2 separate regions of the Homo sapiens genome follow, and region 1 is linked to region 2. Evidence: fine-mapped expression QTL. A gene starts in region 2. The other region holds a variant in brackets. All regions are shown on one strand. Distances are between the middles of the regions. Region 1 holds the start of PABPC4 (poly(A) binding protein cytoplasmic 4). Region 2 holds the start of HPCAL4 (hippocalcin like 4).

The links. PIP is the estimated chance that this variant, and not a neighbour inherited with it, causes the effect.
Region 1: its variant is fine-mapped to the expression of HPCAL4 in whole blood (INTERVAL, PIP above 0.99).

The regions. Positions count from the first base shown.
Region 1 is chr1:39,571,833-39,582,365 of GRCh38, reverse strand. It overlaps PABPC4 (poly(A) binding protein cytoplasmic 4), which reads left to right and starts at 5,576. Exons shown (of 16, transcript NM_001135653.2): 1 at 5,576-6,607; 2 at 9,780-9,973. The coding sequence starts at 6,415. PABPC4-AS1 (PABPC4 antisense RNA 1) reads right to left here. Exons shown (of 4, transcript NR_125979.1): 3 at 9,688-9,911; 4 at 9,163-9,285. RefSeq lists a silencer at 5,322-5,631 and enhancers at 6,132-6,201, 6,702-6,751, 6,772-6,891. The variant C/T (reference allele first, on the strand shown) is at 5,765.
Region 2 is chr1:39,688,360-39,697,621 of GRCh38, reverse strand. HPCAL4 (hippocalcin like 4) reads left to right here and starts at 6,189. Exons shown (of 4, transcript NM_016257.4): 1 at 6,189-6,316. RefSeq lists an enhancer at 5,220-5,810 and silencers at 5,883-6,112, 6,333-6,412, 7,687-7,913.

The DNA.
Region 1 (10,533 bases), 120 kb after region 2:
CAAAAAGAAAAAAGTAATTTGGGCTGGGCGCAGTGGCTCACGCCTGTAATCCCAGCACTTTGGGAGGCCCAGGCGGGCGGATCACGAGGTCAGGAGATCAAGACCATCCTGGTTAACACAGTGAAACCCCATTTCTACTAAAAAATACAGAAAATTAGCCGGGCGTGGTGGCAGGCACCTGTTGTCCCAGCTACTCGGGAGGCTGAGGCAGCAGAATGGCGTGAACCCGGGAGGCGGAGTTTGCAGTGAGTGGAGATCCCACTACTGCATTCCAGCCCGGGCGACAGAGTGAGACTCCCTCTCAAAACAAAAAAAAAAAAAAGAAAGAAAAAAGTAATTTGAGCGAAGGCACTTTGCTCTTAAAATCCTGCAGCTTTACTCTTTGATCTGAGGATAAAATCCTAAGTGTTTTAAGGCCATCTCTTTCATTTCCCACAACTCCACAGTTTGTCTCCCTTAGGGCTTTTTTTTTTTTTTCAGACAGAGTCTCTCTCAGTCGCCCAGGCTGGAGTGCAGTGGCACAACCTTGGCTCACTGCAACCTCTGCCTCCCGGATTCACATGATTCTCCTCCCTCAGCCTCCCAAGTAGCTGGGATTATAGGCACCTGCCACCACATCCGGCTAATTTTCTATTTTTAGTAGAGACGGGGTTTTACCATGTTGGTCAGGCTGGTCTCAAACTCCTGACCTCAGGTGATCTGCTCTCCTTGGCCTCCCAAAGTGCTGGAATTACAGGCAATTACAGGCGGCAGCCACCACGCCTGGCACTTAGGGCCTTTATAGATGCTGTTCTCCCTGACTTCATTTAGGGACTCCCCTCCTTTCTTTTTATTTTACTTTTTTTTTTTTTTTTTGAGACAGAGTTTCACTCCTGTTGCCCAGGCTGGAGTGCAATGGCGCAATCTCGGCTCACCGCAACCTCCACCTCCCCGGTTCAAGTGATTCTCCAGCCTCAGCCTCTGGAGTAGCTAGGATTACAGGCATGCACCACCACGCCTGGCTAATTTTGTTTTTTTAGTAGAGATGGGGTTTCTCCATGTCCGTCAGTCTGGTATCGAACTCCTGACCTCAGGTGATCTGCCTGCCTCAGCCTCCCAAAGTGCTGGGATTACAGGCGTGAGCCACCGCGCCCGGCCTCCGCCTCCTTTCTTAGTACAAATGTAGCTTGATAGTAATAGCTATTAACATTCATCCAAGGCTGGGCACATGGTGGCTTACACCTGTAATCCCAACACTTTGGGAGACTGAGGTGGGGGCGGATTGCCTGAGCTCAGGAGTTCGCAACCAGGCTGGGCAACATTGTGAAAACCTGTCTCTACTAAAATACAAAAAATTAGCCCAGTGTGGCGATGTATGCCTGTAGTCCCAGCTACTAGGGAGGCTGAGGCAGGAGAATCGCTTGAACCTGAGAGGCAGAGGTTGCAGTGAGCTGAGATCGCACCACTGCATTCCAGCCTGGGCGACAAAGTGAGACATCTCAAAAAAAAAATTAATCCAAACAATTTATGTGTATTTATATGTATTCATTTATTCTCACAATAACCCTTTTAATTGTTAATAAGGTTTATTAGTATAGTTCAGATGAGAAATTTGAGGGTCAGAGATGTGAACTAGCTTGCCCAAAGTAATATAGGTAATAAGCTCCCCCAATAGACAATAAGCTTCAGGAGGTCAGAGCTTGTGTGGGTTTTGCTCATCTGTGCCTAGTATTCATTTGTTTATTTAACAAATATTTAGGCCAGGTGCAGTGGTTTATGCCTGTAATCCCAACACTTTAAGAAGCCAAAGTGGATCGCTTGAGGTCAGGAGTTTGAGGCTGCAGTGAGCTATGATCAGGCCACTGCACTCCAGCCTGGGCAACACAGTGAGACTTTGTTGCTTAAAAAAAAATACATGCAGTGGCTCATGCCTGTAATCCCAGCACTTTGGGAGGCCAAGGTGGGCGGATCACGAGGTCAGGAGATCAAGACCATCCTGGCTAGCACAGTGAAACCCCATCTTTACTAAAAAATACAAAAAATTAGCCGGGCGTGGTAGTGGGCACCTGTGGTCCCAGCTACTCGGGAGGCTGAGGCAGGAGAATGGCGTGAACCCGGGAGGCAGAGCTTGCAGTGAGCCAAGATCGCGCCACTGCACTCCAGCCTGGGCAACAGAGCGAGACCCAGTCTCAAAAAAAACAAAAAAACAAAAAAAAAAATACACAGGCTGGGTGTGTGGCTCACGCCTGTAATCCCAGCACTTGGGGAAGCCGAGACGAATACATCACCTGAGGTCAGCAGTCGGAGACCAGCCTGGGCAACATGGTGAAATCCCATCTCTACTGAAAATACAAAAAGTAGCTGGGCATAGTGGTGGGTGCCTGTAATTCCAGCTACTTGGGAGGCTGAGGCAGGAGAATCACTTGAATCCGGGAGGTGGCGGTTGCAGTGAGCCGACATCACGCCACTGCACTCCAGCCTGGGTGACAGAGCAAGTCTCTGTCTCAAAAAAAAAAAAAAAAAAAAAAAGGCTGGGCGTGGTGGCTCACCCCTGTAATCCCAGCACTTTGGGAGGCCGAGGCGGGCAGATTACAAGGTCAAGAGATTGAGACCATCCTGGCCAACATGGTGAAACCCCATCTCTACTAAAAATACAAAAATTAGCCAGGTGTGGTGGCACGCACCTGTAGTCCCAGCTACTCGGGAGGCTGAGGCAGGAGAATTGCTTGAATCCGGGAGGCGGAAGTTGCAGTGAGCCTAGATCGCAGTACTGCACTCCAGCCTGCCAATAGAGCGAGAGTTGGTTTCAAAAAAAAAAATAGCCAGGTGTGGTGGCGCATGCCTGCAATCCCAGCTACTTGGGAGGCTGAGGCATGAGAATTGCTTGAACCTGGGAGGCAGAGGTTGCAGTGAGCCGAGACTGCACCACTGCACTCCAGCCTCGGTGACAGAGGAAGATTTCATACCCCCCCCACAAAAAAAACAAGAAAACACACACACACACACACACACACACACACACACACACAAACATATATTGAATATTTATTTATCTATTTATTTTTTAGTAACAGAGTCTCACTCTGTTGCTCAGCCTGGAGTGCAGCGACATGATCATAGCTCACTACAGCCTTCAACTCCTGGCCTCAAGCGATCCTCCTACCTCAGACTCCCAAGTAGCTGAGACCACAGGCATGTGTCCCCACACCCAGCCAATTAAAAGAAAATTTTTTTTTGTAGAGATAGGGTCTCACTCTGTTGCCCAGGCTGGTTTCAAATGTCTGGGCTCAAGCGATCCTCCTGCCTCAGCCTCCCAAAGCACTGAGAGTATAGGTGTGAGCCACCTGCCTGGCCAGTTACTGAACATTTAGTACGTGCTATGTTAAGCACTATTCTAGATTCCTGTTCTCATGAAGCTTATATACCAATGTGGAAAAGATAGATACTAAACAGGTAAACAGATATAGAACAACATAATTTTGGGTAGGAATAACAGGCTTGAAGACAAGAAGACAAGTTGGTGTGATAGTGATTAACAATGTTGACGGCTACTTTAGACCACAGGAGGTCTAGGAAGACTTTCCTGAGGAGGGAATCTATAGAAGGAGCACTCCCATAAATGTTCCTTTTTTTTTGAGACGGAGTCTCGCTCTGTCACCCAGGCTGGAGTGCAGTAGCATGATCTCAGCTTACTGCAACCGCTGCCTCCTGGGTTCCAGCGATTCTCCTGCCTCAGCCTTCCAAGTAGCTGGGACTATAGGCACGTGCCATCATGCCCGGCTAATTTTGTATTTTTAGTAGAGATGGGGTTTCACCATGTTGGCCAGGCTGGTCTCGAACTCCTGACCTCAGGTGATCCGCTCACCTCAGCCTGCCAAAGTGCTGGGATTACAGGTGTGAGCCATCGTGCCCAGCCAATGTTTCTTGATTTAATATAGTTATTAGAATATAAACTCCATGAGAGAGGGAGTGACTTCTGGTCCACCATGGTATCTCCAGCCCCTGTATTGACATTGGCATAGAGTAGGCTCAGATTAACCATTTATTTGAATTAATTAATATATAAATACACATATTTCTTTAGTCATTTACTTAAATCAGTGCTTTTGAAGGGGGATGTCTGTGTCTTTTGGCAATTTCTGTTTTTGGTTTTCACAGTGATGGCAAAGGTGGTTCCTGGCACTTATGGAAGAAGGGATGCTATATATCTTGTAATGCGTGTGGACAGTCCCATATAACATAGTCCTATAAAGTGATATGACTTTTTTTTTTTTGAGACGGAGTTTCGCTCTTGTTGCCCAGGCTAGAGTGCAATGGCATGATCTCAGCTCACCACAACCTCTGCCTGCCGGGTTCAAGCGATTCTTCTGCTTTAGCCGCCTGAGTAGCTGGGATTACAGGCATGCACCCCCATGTCTGGCTACTTTTTGTATTTTTAGGAGAGACGGGGGTTTCTTCATGTTGGTCATGCTGGTCTCGAACTCTCGACCTCAGTGATCCGCCCGCCTCGGCCTCCCAAAGTGCTGGGATTACAGGCGTGAGCCACCACGCCTGGCCTGTGATACGACTTTCAAATGACCTGCCAGACTCTCATGCAGATGAAAAGTCTTTTTATAATTATCCAAGCCTAGAAGAAACTTTAAACATAGGAACAGAAAGTATTTCTGTGCCCTTAAACACAAACTAAATGTCCGGGAATGCCACCAGCATGTCAATAGAGGGGATGCTTGTGTTTGGTTTCATTGAAGCTTTACCAAAATGTGCTCATCTTTTCAGAAAATCCCATCACCCATGGATACTGCTTGCATTTCTAGTTCCTGACGATTCTACCTCTAGGTCAACGGTATCCTGAAAACTTCTCAAATCTTTATTGTATTTGGACCCAGACATTTACCTATTGGACCACCTATTATTTTATTTTAACTTATTTTATGTCACCTTCATTTCACAATTTGGCATACCATTTAATTTTTTTTTTTTTGAGAGGGAGTCTCACTCTGTTGCCCAGGCTGGATGGAGTGCAGTGGCACGATCTTGGCTCACCGCGACCTCCGCCTCCCGGGTTCAAGCTATTCTCCTGCTCAGCCTCCCGAGTAGCTAGGACTACAGGCGCATGCCACCACGCCCGGCTAATGTTTTGTATTTTTAGTAGAGACGGGGTTTCACCGCGTTAGCCAGGATGGTCTCGATCTCCTGACCTCCATGATCCATCCGCCTCGGCCTCCCAAAGTGCTGGGATTACAGGCGTGAGCCACTGCACCCAGCCCCATACCATTTAATTTTAAACCTCATGCGTGTGTGCAGGTTAAATGGCTCCTAGGTTCCATTCCCGGGTGATGGGTGGGAGGGTGTTAAGATTTATTTGTTATAGAAAGGGGCCCTGGGGTCTCCCGCAGCCGCGAGCTGGGCGGTCCTCCCGGCGCCAGGGGTCGCTGTAGCGCCGCGCGGCCGCGCCGGGTCGCTCTCGCGTGGCCGCCCCGCCTCGGGCCCCCGGGCCGAGTGGGCGGGCACGACTGCGCCCAGGTCGCGAGGCGCCCTTCGACCAGCAGCGCCCGGGGCGGGCGGGTATAAATGGAGCGGTGGCTCCCTCGGCCGCCTCTCTCCGCCCCGGGTCGCTGCCGCCTCCGCCGCTTTCGGGCTTCGCAGCCTGAGGAAAAAAAGAGAAAAAGATAAAAAAAATCTGAAAACGCTTCAAAATCCTGAAAAAAAAAAAGGAAAAGAAAAAACGAATCCTCGGAGAACCCGCGGGGAAGTCACTTTCGTACGCTTCCGGCCTGCCCCGCGC[C/T]CGCCGCCGCAGCGCTTGGCGTCCGTCGGTCTCCGTCCGTCGGTCCGGGGGTGAGCCGCCCGCCCGGCCCGCCGTGCCCTCCCCCCGCTCGGGCCCCGAGCCCCGCGCCCCGCGCCTGCCCCGGCGCACCACGTGTCCGTGCTGCCCTTCGCCGCCCGCCCGGGGCTCGCCGAGTCGGCGCCCACAAAGATTTGGTTTCCCTCTGCCCCGGCGGTTGTAATCTTAAACCGCCGGAGCCCGAGGCCTATATTTATAGAGAAACGCGTGTCCCCGAGGCCGCCGTGGGCAGCGTCCGGTCGCCTCTTAAAGGATTTTTACCCTTCGGAAGGGGATTCCCCGTTTAATTTTTTTCCTACTTTGATTTTTTGAAATTTGGAGCTTCGCACCAGGACCGCGGAGAAGTGCAAAGTCGCGGGGAGGGCCGTATTGTGCGGAGAGCCTTTTGTCTGCGGTGCTGCGGCCGTGGGAGCCGGCCCCCGCCTCCCGTTTCCGTCCCGTCTCCAAGCCCGCCGACTCCAGCTCGTCCTCGCCGCGCCGGTGCCACCTGTGAGCCGCGGCGCGGGCCCGGGCTCCGAAGGCGCCCCTTTGTCCTGCGGCGGGCCCGATAAGAAGTCCTCCTGGCGGGGCTCGGGGTGGTGGGGGGCGGGGAGATGAACGCTGCGGCCAGCAGCTACCCCATGGCCTCCCTGTACGTGGGCGACCTGCATTCGGACGTCACCGAGGCCATGCTGTACGAAAAGTTCAGCCCCGCGGGGCCTGTGCTGTCCATCCGGGTCTGCCGCGATATGATCACCCGCCGCTCCCTGGGCTATGCCTACGTCAACTTCCAGCAGCCGGCCGACGGTGAGTAGAAGCTGTGCCCACACGTGCGTGGGAGCCCGGAGGACCCCGGGAGTCGTCTTCTGGCAGGGCCCTCCTGCCGAGGAGGGCGGCATCACGACAGCATGTTGCCACCGAAGCTGGGAGCAGGGTGCGGAGATTGAGAACGCGGACCTGGCATCAGATGACTCGAGTTTCAATCTTGTTTCTACCACTTGCTAACTGGGTGACCTTGGGCTACTTATTAGTGTTGCTGGTAGTGGGGTTGGAAACCAAGGAGACTGTAAAACAGGATTAGAGTGAAGCCACTGGCATTCCACTGCGTGTGGTCCTTGTCAGTGGGGCTGGGCTGTTAGAGATCCTTGCTTGTGCCCCTCACAGGCTGGCCAAAAAGGCGGGACGTTTGAAACACAATTCCCCGCGAAAGTTTTACATTGTAAAGCTCCTGCCCGCTCCGCCACCTTTACTAACCTTGACTACCTGATGTTGTGCTGATAAAGGATCAGTCAGGGCAGGCAGGAAGCAGGGGGAAGGTTTCTGTGCGTTAAACTTTCGCAGAGACTTAGGTTAGTGCCACAAAAGCTGCGTGTGCCAGGCCACCTCCTTGGTCTGTGTGTTTGCCACTGGAGTGGAGAAGTGCTTTACTCTGGACAAATGGTATCCAGGCTCTGTGCTGTAGAGTGTCGTGGAGGTAGTTTAGGGAAGCGTCACTTGAAAATCTGGTGTCATTTGTCACCTCAGCTGTAACAGTGCTTTGCACTAGTCAGAGCCCTTTTATTTCATCTAATCTGAAGAAAATGGGACTCCTGAGAAGGAGAACGAATGCAAAAAGTTGGAAGCCAAGTTAGGACTCCCAGCACAGTGCTCTGCCACCTCAGATTGTGGCCTTAGCGTGGAGCATGGAGAGAGGTATGCTGCAGGCGTGGCAGGAGGGAGGCCAGAGGAAACCTGATCAGAGGCTGCACGTGACTCCAGATTAAAAGGGAACAACTGCAGAGATCATTACTGGGAGAAACAAGCCATTCTATGGCAAAGCATCTCCAGGTCCCTAGTTTTGGGGTCCCCCCTTTGTTTTCTGTCTGAGGCCCAGAGTTACTACCTGCCCAGGTTGCGGCTGAGACCAGAGAATTGGACATGTTGAGAGGGACTAGGTATTGCTACTGTCAATCCAGTGTGCTCCAAGCTGAGTTCTGTCCATGGCCATAGGAGCGCAAAGGTAGCTGAGTGTGGTCTTTTTAAGGGATAATGTACCACATTAGCTGTTGTCTGCCTTACTGACTTTTGAACAAAAGTCGTGTCACTTAGAGATAGCAGAAGCTATTGGTCAGTGTGTCTGCCAACACATACTTCTGCAGGACTTCTCCCTGCTATAAATAAGTGCAGCCAGATTTGTCAGACTAAGCCGGCTTGCCTTGTGCAGTGCTGTCTGGAAATAGACGAGGAGCTGTTGTTGAAGTGGGCTCCTTTACTGCTAATTAATGAAATAGTTTGCGATCCCAGCTATCTATCTCTGATAGCCATCACAAGCAAAGTCCTCTTTCCCTGGACTGTTCCTGACTTGGATCGGTCTTGTCATCTCCCCTTTTCCCAACTACCCCCCACACAGATGAGGCCCACCTTCTGAAGGGGGTGGGGAAAGTTGTTGGAAATAATGAGTGAAAATAAATTCTCCCGGCTAATGAAACAGTTGAGCTTGTGGAGCGGCAGAGTTGGGGAATTTTGTCCCCCCTTTAAGTGAGATGTTGTCCTGAGGCAAGGAGCAGGTTCCACTGCTCTGACCCTGTCTAAATCCCCTCATGGAGGAGGTTCTGGGTGATGTCACCGTTAGGAGATGCCATCATAGCCTTAAGGAAAAGTGGCCACCAGATCTGGGCATCCTTGTTGCGATTAGTGATGAGAAGTGTTTTGGCTGGCAGGTGGTGTTATTTTTTAGCTTTTGGTTCTTTTTGTTGTTGTTTGTTTTGAGACACTGTTTCACTCTTGCTGCCCAGGCTGGAGTGCAATGGCGCGATCTCAGCTCACTGCAACCTCTGACTCCTGGGTCCAAACAATTTTCCTGCCTCAGTCTCCTGAGTAGCTGGGATTACAGGCACCCGCCACCATGCCCAGCTAATTGTGTATTTTTAGTAGAGATGGGGTTTTCACCATGTTGGTCAGGCTGGTCTCGAACTCCTGACCTCAGGTAATCCACCCGCCTTGGCCTCCCAAAGTGCTGGGATTACAGGAGTGAGCCACCATACCCAGCCCAGCCTTTGGTTCTTTAAATTGTCTCTGGTGTACACACGGACTTGGTTGGGAAGCTAAGGAAGCATTCCAAGGTGTTGGATGGGGAAGTTGGTTGAGCACCCAGGGTAGCTGAAGTCCTAGAATTCTACAGAACTTCCATTAAGGCTTCAAAAGGTGGGTGCAGGGCCTGCCATCTGCGCACTGTCTACTTAGGCAGAAGGTATGGTGGTTTTATCCTTGTGATAGTACAGAGAACTTTTCCATGTGTGATCAGTTGTGTCCATTTTGATGACTGATGCTTTTTTGTTTAAGTCAATTTCTGTTCTCAGAAATTGAAAATAAACTGGACTGAATTCTGAATTCAGGGATAGCACCTTTTTTTTTTTTTCCAGATCATTTGCTTTACAGGTTTTGTCACTTGTCTCCATAGGTGGATTGCAGACTAAATGACTTGATAACTTTGATGCAATACCTCACTGAAAAATAAATCAGATAATCTAGTATTAGTTTCGTAATTACTAGCTAGCTGCACAGCTTAGTTACCCTAAACATAAGTTTGTTCATTTTGTAAAATGTATAATTTCAGCTGTCCCACCTGAGTCATGGTGGGTGGTAGTCTGCAAAGTCTCTTCTAAGTGGTAAAGCTTAGTCAAATGTGAGGTATTATCACTGGATCTTGGTGTCATTAAGGCCATTTAGATTATCTTTACTTGTGGCCCCTTTATCCAACAAGGGCACAGACCCAGAAGGGTGTTTAGACTTCTGTCATGAAGTAGAGTCATTAGCTGGAACTTATGCTTCCCTTACTAACAGTGCAGGCTGGAGGAATCTGATGCCCTTTTATTTTAATAGAGTTGCCTTTTATCAAGAGTGATTACCTTGAAAAGTCCTGGAGTAATCTGTTCTTAGGCTGTTGGCCTGTGGGAGCTGACGTTTTCTCTCCTTATTGAAATGTGTTTCTCTCTTACAGCTGAGCGGGCTTTGGACACCATGAACTTTGATGTGATTAAGGGAAAGCCAATCCGCATCATGTGGTCTCAGAGGGATCCCTCTTTGAGAAAATCTGGTGTGGGAAACGTCTTCATCAAGAACCTGGACAAATCTATAGATAACAAGGCACTTTATGATACTTTTTCTGCTTTTGGAAACATACTGTCCTGCAAGGTAAACATTGATTAAATGATTTTAGCAGAATAATTAATTGATTCTTGAAAACAAGATAAATACCAAACAGAGAACTATCTTGGAATTGGGGAACAAGATATGGGAATTTTCAAAATGCTGGACATGGAATCCTAAAAGTTCCCATAGGTAATCTCAGGGCCATACCCAGCGTAACCAGCACACGCTTTCATACCCTTGTTCTTTACTCAGCCTGAAATATCCTTCCTATTCTTTAGCTTTGGAAAGCCCACGTTTTTCTTTTGGGATGGGGGAAAGTAGAGGACCAGAGAAGTGTCTCTAGTCTTGAGGAAACTTAATCACTTTAGAAGCATAAATTCACTCTATTCCTTCTACGTATCTGTTCTATGCTGAGCACTTTAAAACTTAAACGGTGGTGGTGTATATGTTTAATGCCATACTACACTGAAAATCTGTTGTGGCCTTGGAAAATGTTTTGTTTTCTGCATCACCGTGGTTTGCACCCAGATCTCTTAAAATGTGTTGTTGTGTTTTAAAGAGACAGAGTCTTGCTCTGTCTGTCACCCAGGGTGGAGTGCAGT
Region 2 (9,262 bases):
ATCTCCTATAATAAACAGCTCTGCCCCCTCCCCTCACCCATTGAGGCCTGGGGGTGGTACTGGATCTCCACTGTTGCTAGCTGCACGGTGCTTGGCAATACCTCATTGATTTCTCTCAACCATACTGTACCGTACCTATGTACATAATTCCCTTATTGACCTTTCTTTAATTATCCCTTTGAGTGCCACTTGCTTGATAGTACAGCTTGTATGTGTTCTTATAAACTCTAGGCACCTCTATTGTTTTTCTCCACCAAGCATCTATTCACCCCTTTCTTGGAAGGAACACCTTCCTTCCCTAGTGTGGTGGCAGGGGCATATGCTTTGGGAGGACTTGACTTGACTTCCCAGTTCTGGGTGTAGGAAAATGACTCAAGCCTGGCCAATCTGAGTACTGCATACCCCTGTCTTCAGCGATTGACCCTGAAATTAGCATGGACTCCAAATCAGGCCAATGAGAGCCAGCCCAGGACTTTGGCTGCAGTGGGAAAGAGAAGCTCTCTTCTTTTCTGTGGGACTCCAACCTGACAGTATGTTGGCCTGGAGATGCCCACAGATATCTTGTCTTTATGTGGATCTCGAGAATTAAGCCAACACTCAAGAGAGCAGAGCTGAGCCTTGGAAAGAGGTCAGGTATTAATTACGTTGTTTAAGCCCTAGAATCCAGCCAGCCCTAAAGTCCAATCTATTTCTGTTTTTTTTTTCTTTACTTAAGCCATTACATTCTCTTTTTGCCTAACCCATCATAGGGTGGATTTTCTGTACCTTGCAACAAGTCATAACTGACAAAGAAATATATCAAATTAATATATGTTCCCTGAAAGCAAACATAAATCACCTCTAGATAACCTAAGTTTAAAACATAAATCTGGGGAAGAGATGTGGGATGGCTTACTGACTCAAAGGAAAAGCAGAAGACGGGATTCAGATAGCAGGAATGAATAGACAGGGTCATTAGGGCACTGCTCTGGAATAAAGCAGTGCTAACTATCTACATCCTTGAGTCACTTTACTCAAGATTCAGATTTGCTTGGGGGAGAGAGAGAGAGAGAGAGAAGGGGAGAGAGAGAGAGAGAAAGCAAGACACCTGAGCTGATAGTTTCCACCACAACTGTACATAATAGGGTGCTATTACTATACACTGTAATTCCTCAAAGTAAAATCTGTGCTAAGCACTTTGCATATATTAACTCATTTTAATCCTCAGAGTAGCCCTATAAAATAAACACTATTTTTGTTTGTTTGTTTGTTTTTGAGGTGGAGTCTCACTCTGTCACCCAGTCTGGAGTGCAGTGGTACCATCTCAGCTCACTGCAACCTCCAGCTCCCGGGTTCAAGTGGATTCTCCTGCCTCAGCTCCTCAAGTAGCTGGGATTACAGGTGTGCGCCACCAGTCCCGGCTAATTTATTTATTTTATTTTTTGTTTGTTTGTTTGTTTGTTTGTTTTTTGAGATGAAGTCTCGCTCTGTCGCCCAGGCTAGAGTGCAGTGGCGTGATCTCGGCTCACTGCAACCTCCGCCTCCCGGGTTCAAGCAATTCTCCTGCCTCAGCCTCCTGAGTAGCTGGAATTACAGGTGTGTGCCACCATGCCCGGCTAATGTTTTTGTATTTTAGTAGAGACAGGGTTTCACCATACTGGCCAGGCTGGTCTCAAACTTCTGACCTTAGGTGATCCACCCGCCTCAGCCTCCCAAAGTGCTGGGATTACAGGCGCGAGGCACTGCTCCCAGCCTGGCATGTTTTTAGTAGAGATAGGGTTTCACCATGTTGGCCAGGCTAGTCTCAAACTCCTGACCTCAGGTGATCCACCTGTCTTGGCTTCCCAAAGTGCTGGGATTACAGGCATGAGCCACCGCTCCCGGCCAATACTATTTTTATTATCCCTATTTTACAGATAAAGAGACAGAGACACAGAGAGATAAAGTAATGTGCCTGTAGTCACACAGCTGGTAAGTGACAACTGTGGGATGCAAACCTAGGCAACCTGGCTGTAAGTCTGTGCACTTAACCCATTATACATATGGCTTCTCCAATAGAATAAGAGGGAATAGATTCAGGACAGGCAAAACCACAAGGTCCCCTGCAGTTATCATGCAAGGAGTTATAGGGAACTTCCACTCTCTCTGTAGTTGTTGTCTTCTTTCTTCTTTCTTCTTTCTTCTTTCTTCCTTCTTTTCTTTCTCTTCTCTTCTCCTTCTTCTTTTCCTTCTCCTTCTTCCAAATAATAGAGAGACTTCTTAAAAAAAATCGTGCTTAGCCAATAGCATAAAAGGAAGGAATCCAACTCTGGTGATCTCACTCTCTCCCAGCCACAAAGAAGATGGTGAACTATCTAAGACCTAGGGGAATTCCAGCTGTCAGGAGGCTGCACTAGCCAAGGCAGAGAAAACCCAGGGAATCAGGAAGGCACTATCCATCATAAAGGCACTGTTCAGGACCAAGGAGGAGAGGAATGCTAGCACTTAGATGAAACAAATTGAAGTGGCCACTGTCTGCAGACCTCTGTCCTCACCCAAACCCTGCTGGGCTCACTCCCCTCCATGCCCCTTTGTGGGGCCTCCTGTACAGCCACCCTGTCCTTCAGTGCAGCTTGATTTTGCCTCCTCATTCTGCAGAGCCTGCTCCTTCAACAACGTGGAACAGGTGTTTGCCAAGACTCCAAGCCTGAGAACAGTAAGGCCATGACAAAGCCCCAAAACTTAAGCCACATTCCTCTGGCTCATAATAGTGGAAATCCCAACTCAATTCTGGATGCTACCCCTTCTCAGGAACACAAGTCAGCCAGTGGTTAAGAGTGTGGGCTCTGAAGTCAGACCTAGGTGGGAATCCCAGCTCTTTGACTAACGAGCTGTGTTACAATGGACAAGTTGTCTAACCTTTCTGAGGCTCCATCCTGTGCCATGAAATAAAGTAATGAAACAAGGGCTGAAATTCAGTCCCTATGCACTGTACAGCTAAACTGGTTATTAAAACATAAAAGTACTTCCAAATTGATTGGTAAACAGCCATAGCCTTTGACTCCTTACTATGCTTGCTTCTCCCTGCCTGCCTGACTGATCCAATAACCTAAGTGTTAACTCTTGGCAGAACAGAGAGCTACTAAGACCTTGATCTAGCACTAAGGCCAGTATCCATTCTGATTGATAACGCTCATGCCTGAATGGAGTGTTAGATATTTTTAATATCATCCCTAGTAGTGGTCATCTTCTGGATTAAGTAAGATGATGCAGATAAAGGACTTGGCAGATAGTCTGGTACACAGTGAGGCAATTCAGTCAATGTCAGCTGTTATTGCTTTAAACATCAAACTGAAGGGAACAGAGGCAGGGTCCAATATCAGGGCCTCAAAGTTGAGTATGATGAACAGGTGAAGCTGGGTTATGACTGGCAGTTCAGGAATAGTCACATGGCCCCAAGATGATTCATGGGTGAGGCTGCATGGGTAGTCATGCCTGGAGGATAGGATGGCCAGGAGAAGCCACACTCTGGCCCCCTTGCAGTTCAGGAGGGCTGCTGCTTTTTTTTTTTTTTTTTTTTTTTTTTGTGTGTGTGTGTGTATATCACTCTGTTGCCCAGGCTGGAGTGCAGTGGCGTGATCTCAGCTCACCGCAACCTCTGCTTCCTGGGTTCAAGCGATTCTCCTGCCTCAGCCTCCTTATTTTTGTATTTTTGTATTTTGTATTTTTAGTGGAGGCAGGGTTTTGCCATGTTGGCCAGGCTGGTCTCAAACTCCTGACCTCAAGTGATCCACCCGCCTCAGCCTCCCAAAGTGCTAGGATTACAGGCATAAATCCTGGGTGTGAGCCCAGGAGGGCTTCTTGTTTTCACTACTTCTAGTTTACTGTACTGCTGGAATCCCATATCTTGTTCACCTGAGACAGAAGGGCTGCCCAGGAGGCTGGATTTTGCCTTTCTAATACCTTGGGGAATCAGAAACAAATATTCCAATCTAAGGTCCTTACCCTTAAGGACTTGAAGGACCATAAGAAGAGGCAGTATTGTGTACTGATTAGGAGTGTGGGCTCTGAGGCTAGACTGCTGGGGTTCAAATCCCAGCACTGGAGCTCTCTTTACTAGCAATGTGAACTTGGGTCAGTCACTTAACCGCTCTGTGCCTTGATTTCCTCATCTGTTAAGTAGGAGTAATAATAGAACCTGCCTCACAGAGCTCTTATGGGGAATAAATTGAGTAACTTATTCCCAATTTATATTATATGGTAACATATAATATGCTAGAATAGCACCTGACACAAAGTAAGCTCTCGATACACATTAGCTATTGTTAAGGGGCTCAGGACTCTTAAGTGGAGCAGTCAGATTCATGTCCACATACTTCTGTCCAAGGGACAGTCTTTCTTCACCCACCTGGTTGAAAATTTCCCCCTGCTCCTCTGGACCTCTTGAGCCAGCTCCCACATTTCACAGACTGGGAGGCCCAGAATGAGAAGGGTTTTGCCCACGGTCGTAAATGGAATCATTGGCAAAAATGAGACTCAATGTTAGCAATATGAACTTGGGTCAGTCAATGTTAGGGTTTCAGATACCACTTCTAGTAACCTGTGCTGCCTCTCCCCACTTCTTCACGCCTTGGATTATGGTTAACTGTGAGCAAGGGGGGTTCTCGCTCATCTCTGGGTCCCCAAGACCCAGAGCTGAGAAGGTATCAGAGAAGTGAAAGAGTTAGAGCTTCAAACACCTGTCTTTCATGAGTCACCAACCCATAGTGCCAAGGACGCGCCTTCTCCTACAGCTGCAGGTTCCTTGGAGCCCTCAGCCCCCGCTAAGGCCGCAGAGAGAAGGCATAGTCCGCAGCCTCGAAAATGGTAGAGCAAAACCGTTTCAAGGGGCAACGGGACAGGTCCTAAAGAAAAGGGACGTCCACGGGTTCCTCCCCCAGCGAGCCTGGCCCAGGCATTTCTGGGACCAGCTCCAGAAGCCTCGCCCCCACTCGCGGCAGGTCTGACCCCATCCTCCATCGCCCCGCCCAGCCCACCTCTACCTTCGCCGCGCGGACAGAAGCCCCGCCTCTCACCGCTGCTCTTCAGCGTCCGCGCTCCGATTAGGCCAATCCCCAGCCGTCCGCCCCGACTTTCGACAGATCCTTAGAAGTCCCTGCCCCGCACGTGGCCCAGCCCGGGGATGTCTGGCTCCCCTTTTGCCCCCAGTTTGGCTTAAAAGGGTTCCTTCCCACAGCCTTGTGTCAGGAGCTCTCAGACGCCAGTGCAGCCCAGGCGGCCGGCCCGGGCTGTGGGGAGACCCCCAAGTGCGGGGAGGAGGTGTTGCCGGGGCCCTGAAAGCTTCCAGACCCGCTCAGTGTAAACCGCCTCGGGTTTGTGTCAACATCCGAGGCCGGAGACTGGCGGCGGCTGGGGACCGGCTCCGTCTGCGGGACGGGAAAACGGGAGGGTGGGGAATGGAGGATCCATGGCTAGGCATAGGGGTCCTTCGGGGGAGAACGCGAGAGGCCTCTTGGGGGTCCATGAGAAAGGAGGAGGGCCCGTCTGGGGAGGGACCGGAATGAAGGGCCAGAGGGGTGGCTGGAGGGAACCCACGACTAGCGCGGGGCTAGGTAGAGGCTGGGACTTCGCCACCCATACCGCGCTCTCCGCGCGCAACCAGCACCCTCCTCTCTGCCCCACGGCGTGAGGGGAGTGGATGCGTGGGGAGGGGGGACGCAGAGATGTGGACTGCTGACCAGCCACCTCCTCCCTCTCCCACCCAGCTCCTCCCCAGCTCCTCTTTGGCCCCTCCCAATTTCGGGTGGGATATGGGTGTGGGGGGGGGTCTCATCTTGTGACTCATCCCCTCTTCCGCCCCCACCCATGCTGGGGCCCAGGAAAGGAAGCTTAGAGATTCGGCTGTGGTTCTCCCGTTTCCATAGCAACGGTGAGGTTGTTTTTGAGAATCCACTTTCATCGTCGACCCTTTCCACCCCAGACTTGTAAGCCGGGGGCTGAGCCTCAGGGCAGGGGTGCAGATGGGGGTGCAGCCCTCCCGCTTCCCGGCGACTCCGGGAAGGTCAGCGCGGGCAGGCGGGGCGCGCTCCTGCGGCCGGGCCTCGCCGGCCACCCGGTCCCCACCTGAAACCCCGCCTGCCACTCCGCTCCAGAGGAGCCAATAGCCGTGCAACCTGCCCGGGATGGGGCGGGGCTTATGCAAATAGTGTCGCCTTCGGGAGGCACATAGTGATACAAGAGCTGGAAGGCGGCTCCGGCGCAGACCTTGGAGAGCACAGCTGCCGGCCCGCGAGCCAGCCTCGGTTCCCGCGGCCCGCCGAGGCTCGGAGCCATCCAGCGACCCGGCGACCGGCCTCAGGTAATGCGAGTGGGACCGGGTCCTCAAGGCAACAAACCCACCGGGCGGAGGCCCTGGCCCCCTCCCCCTCCACTCTCCCTTCCCATCCTCATGTCCTGCCCTGATTCACCTCCCTGACCCGTGGTTCCGCCTTAGGCGGCAGCAACTGAAGAGCCCACCCCTGGGCAGGAGACCCCCCACCTCAGTCCAGGCCCATGGGTGCAGAGAAGGAGGCAGAGCCGCCTACTTATCCCCAGCTCAGGTGAGAACAACCATTGCTATGGCCCCCAACATACACGCGCGCAAACACACATACACACACAGATGCACACACACACATCTGGGGGTGTGGTGGCGCTGGTGCTAGCTGGAGGCGCTGGTCACCCTCCCTCCTGTTTGGATATGGGTTGTCTGCCCAGCACCATGGCAAACTCCCACCTCCACGGATAGCCCCTAGCCACTTCTCATCAGGGAGCCCCTGCCCCCAAAGACAGCCTCCCCCTCCACAGAGCGCTCCCTCCTTGTTGTCCCCAGACACTGTCCCCACATCCCACCCCTCAAGCTGACAGAGCCCACAGCATACCTGAGGGGGGGACAATCCCCCTTCCCCAGTTTTTCTCCTCACAGTCTCGACAGCCCTCCCCAGTGGCCCCCAGTGCTAGGCAGAGGCCCCATATTTGGCATCTCTCATCCTGGCGGGAGGATGAACCAAAGACACCACCCCCAGCAGACCACCCATACCGTCAGTCCAGTTGCTGCCAAGGCCCCAACCTCCATACCTCCTCCCTCCCCCCTCACAGCCAGGCACCAAATCCTCTCATTCTGCCTGTCAAATGTCTTTCTAATTTGTATGACTATTTGCTCCCTCTCTCCCACCTTCCTGCTGCTCCGTGGGGACCTTGCCAAGGTGCCATGTGGGCTGTATTGCTCTTGGCCCTAAAGTGAACTATACCTGGAGGGCAGATGAGCTGGGTTCAAATCTTGTACAGCCAAAGTTTGACTTTGGCCAAGTCACTCCCCTCTCTGATCCTTCATGAAAATGGGGAGAGGTATAACAGAGAGGGTAGACTGGGTGAGATGAACTTGAACAGCCTTCTGGCACTGAGACACTCTGGTTCTATGGCTGATTATGGAAAAACAGGATCCTGAACCAAGAGGACATTAAAGAGAGGAGACCTGAGGGGGGCGGGGTTGGTTTAGAACTCACTGAAGACACATTCCTTCTTAACCAGCCTAGGTACAGGCTACCTCCTCCCACACATTCTCCAGGCCCCTTCTATTAGGAGTCCCTCCTAGACCACCAGCCCATCCTGACATGGACAGCTCCAAATTGTAGGTGGCCAGCTGGGATTACTCTTTGTTTGTCATCCCCTGCCTCTCATTAAGAAGAAGAGGGAAAAGACCTGGTTGCTGCTGCTATTGCTGCTGCTTGGGGAAGAGCAAAGGGAGGAGAGGAAAGAGAGAAAAAATCTCCTGACCAGGGAGCTATTGTCACCATGGCAACCACCTCAGTACCAGCTCCTCTGAAGCTGGGTGAGGGTGTGGGATTATTGCCTCCTTCAGTCCCTCCCATTCAAAGCCTCAGCCACCTCTCCATTCAAAGCCCACAGCCCTTAGCCCTCTTGAAGAAACCTCTGGGCACACTGGGACAATGGTTTTGTGTATGGGACAGTCCCAGCTCCTTCATAGCTGGAGGACAGCCCTCAAGAGGTAAGCAGAGGAGCCTGCCCATGTTCAGCAGGGCCACAGCTCCAGCAGAGCATGTCCCCAGCTGGGTTCTGGCCTTCACTTTGCTGCTGATGGGCTATAGTTGACCTGGGGTGAACCCTTCCTTCCCCTAGGTCTGGGTTCCATTGTCTCTGAAGTGGGTGTGATAGCAGGAGAACACAGATAAACAAAACAGCCTGACATAGATCCAGGGAGGAAGAAGGGGGTTCTGCTCCTCTTACGTAATCCACCAAGAGACATTCATTGAACATCACTGTGTCCTAGGCATTGCCACTGCGTCTCCACAGAGCAGTTCTGTGCAGGCACAGAAGGCAGGGTGGGAACCAGGGTAGGGGAGCTATAAGAGAGAAAAAACCCCTGCTCTCATGGGTCCCAGACTCAGTGAGGACTAAGCACTCACTGGGAGAAGTGAGTGCATAGGGAAAAGCACTTTTATTTTCCCCATGGGAAAAATAAACTTTTCTCACGCTTCAACCTGCTCAAAAGTGGACTGGGGCATATTGGAGGGGATCAACTCCTTGCCATTGAGCAAAAAGGTCTGGAGGATTTTTTTTCTGACTCAGGCAGGGGTTTAATGCAAAGACCTGTCTCAAATCAGACTGCATCCTGGAATTCTACAGCACCAGGTGAGGGTCAGAGGGCTATGAAGTCTACACGCCTGTGGGGGACTGACTCATGCCCAAAGTGCTGAGCTTGGGCTGCTGACTCTCCACTGTCCAGACTGGAAAAGGCTGATCATAAGGAAGCAGGCTTCAACCAGGCCCTGAAGACTGATTATAGTCCAGGAGAGAAGAAAGGATATTAGGGGAGAGGAAAATAGCTTAGCAAAGAGGTGAGGCGTGTCTGGCTGTGAGAAGGCTGGCTTGAGAGGAGTATGCGGTGGTGAGTGAGCAATGAGAGCTGAGGCGAGATAGGTGGGCACTTTGAGACCAGATTCTAGAGGATTCTAGAGTTTCAGGGGGCCCATGGGCATGGCTACTTCTAGTCTATATTGTAACTTTCGGGGGGAAAAAGCCATTCCCTCCTAACAGAGGAATCAAAAGAAAGGCACTTCCTGCCAGGCAGGGAAGCCCCATGGGCATGAGCATAGCTTGATTTCAGCCCCCTCGGCTGTGTCCCTGGCTATGGACATAATGAAGGTACCAAGAGCATTTCAAAATAAGAGACAACAGGACTTGATGGCAAGTTAGACCTAGGGCAAAGGGAAGGGAAAAAATGAAGGTAACTAAGATTGTGTTC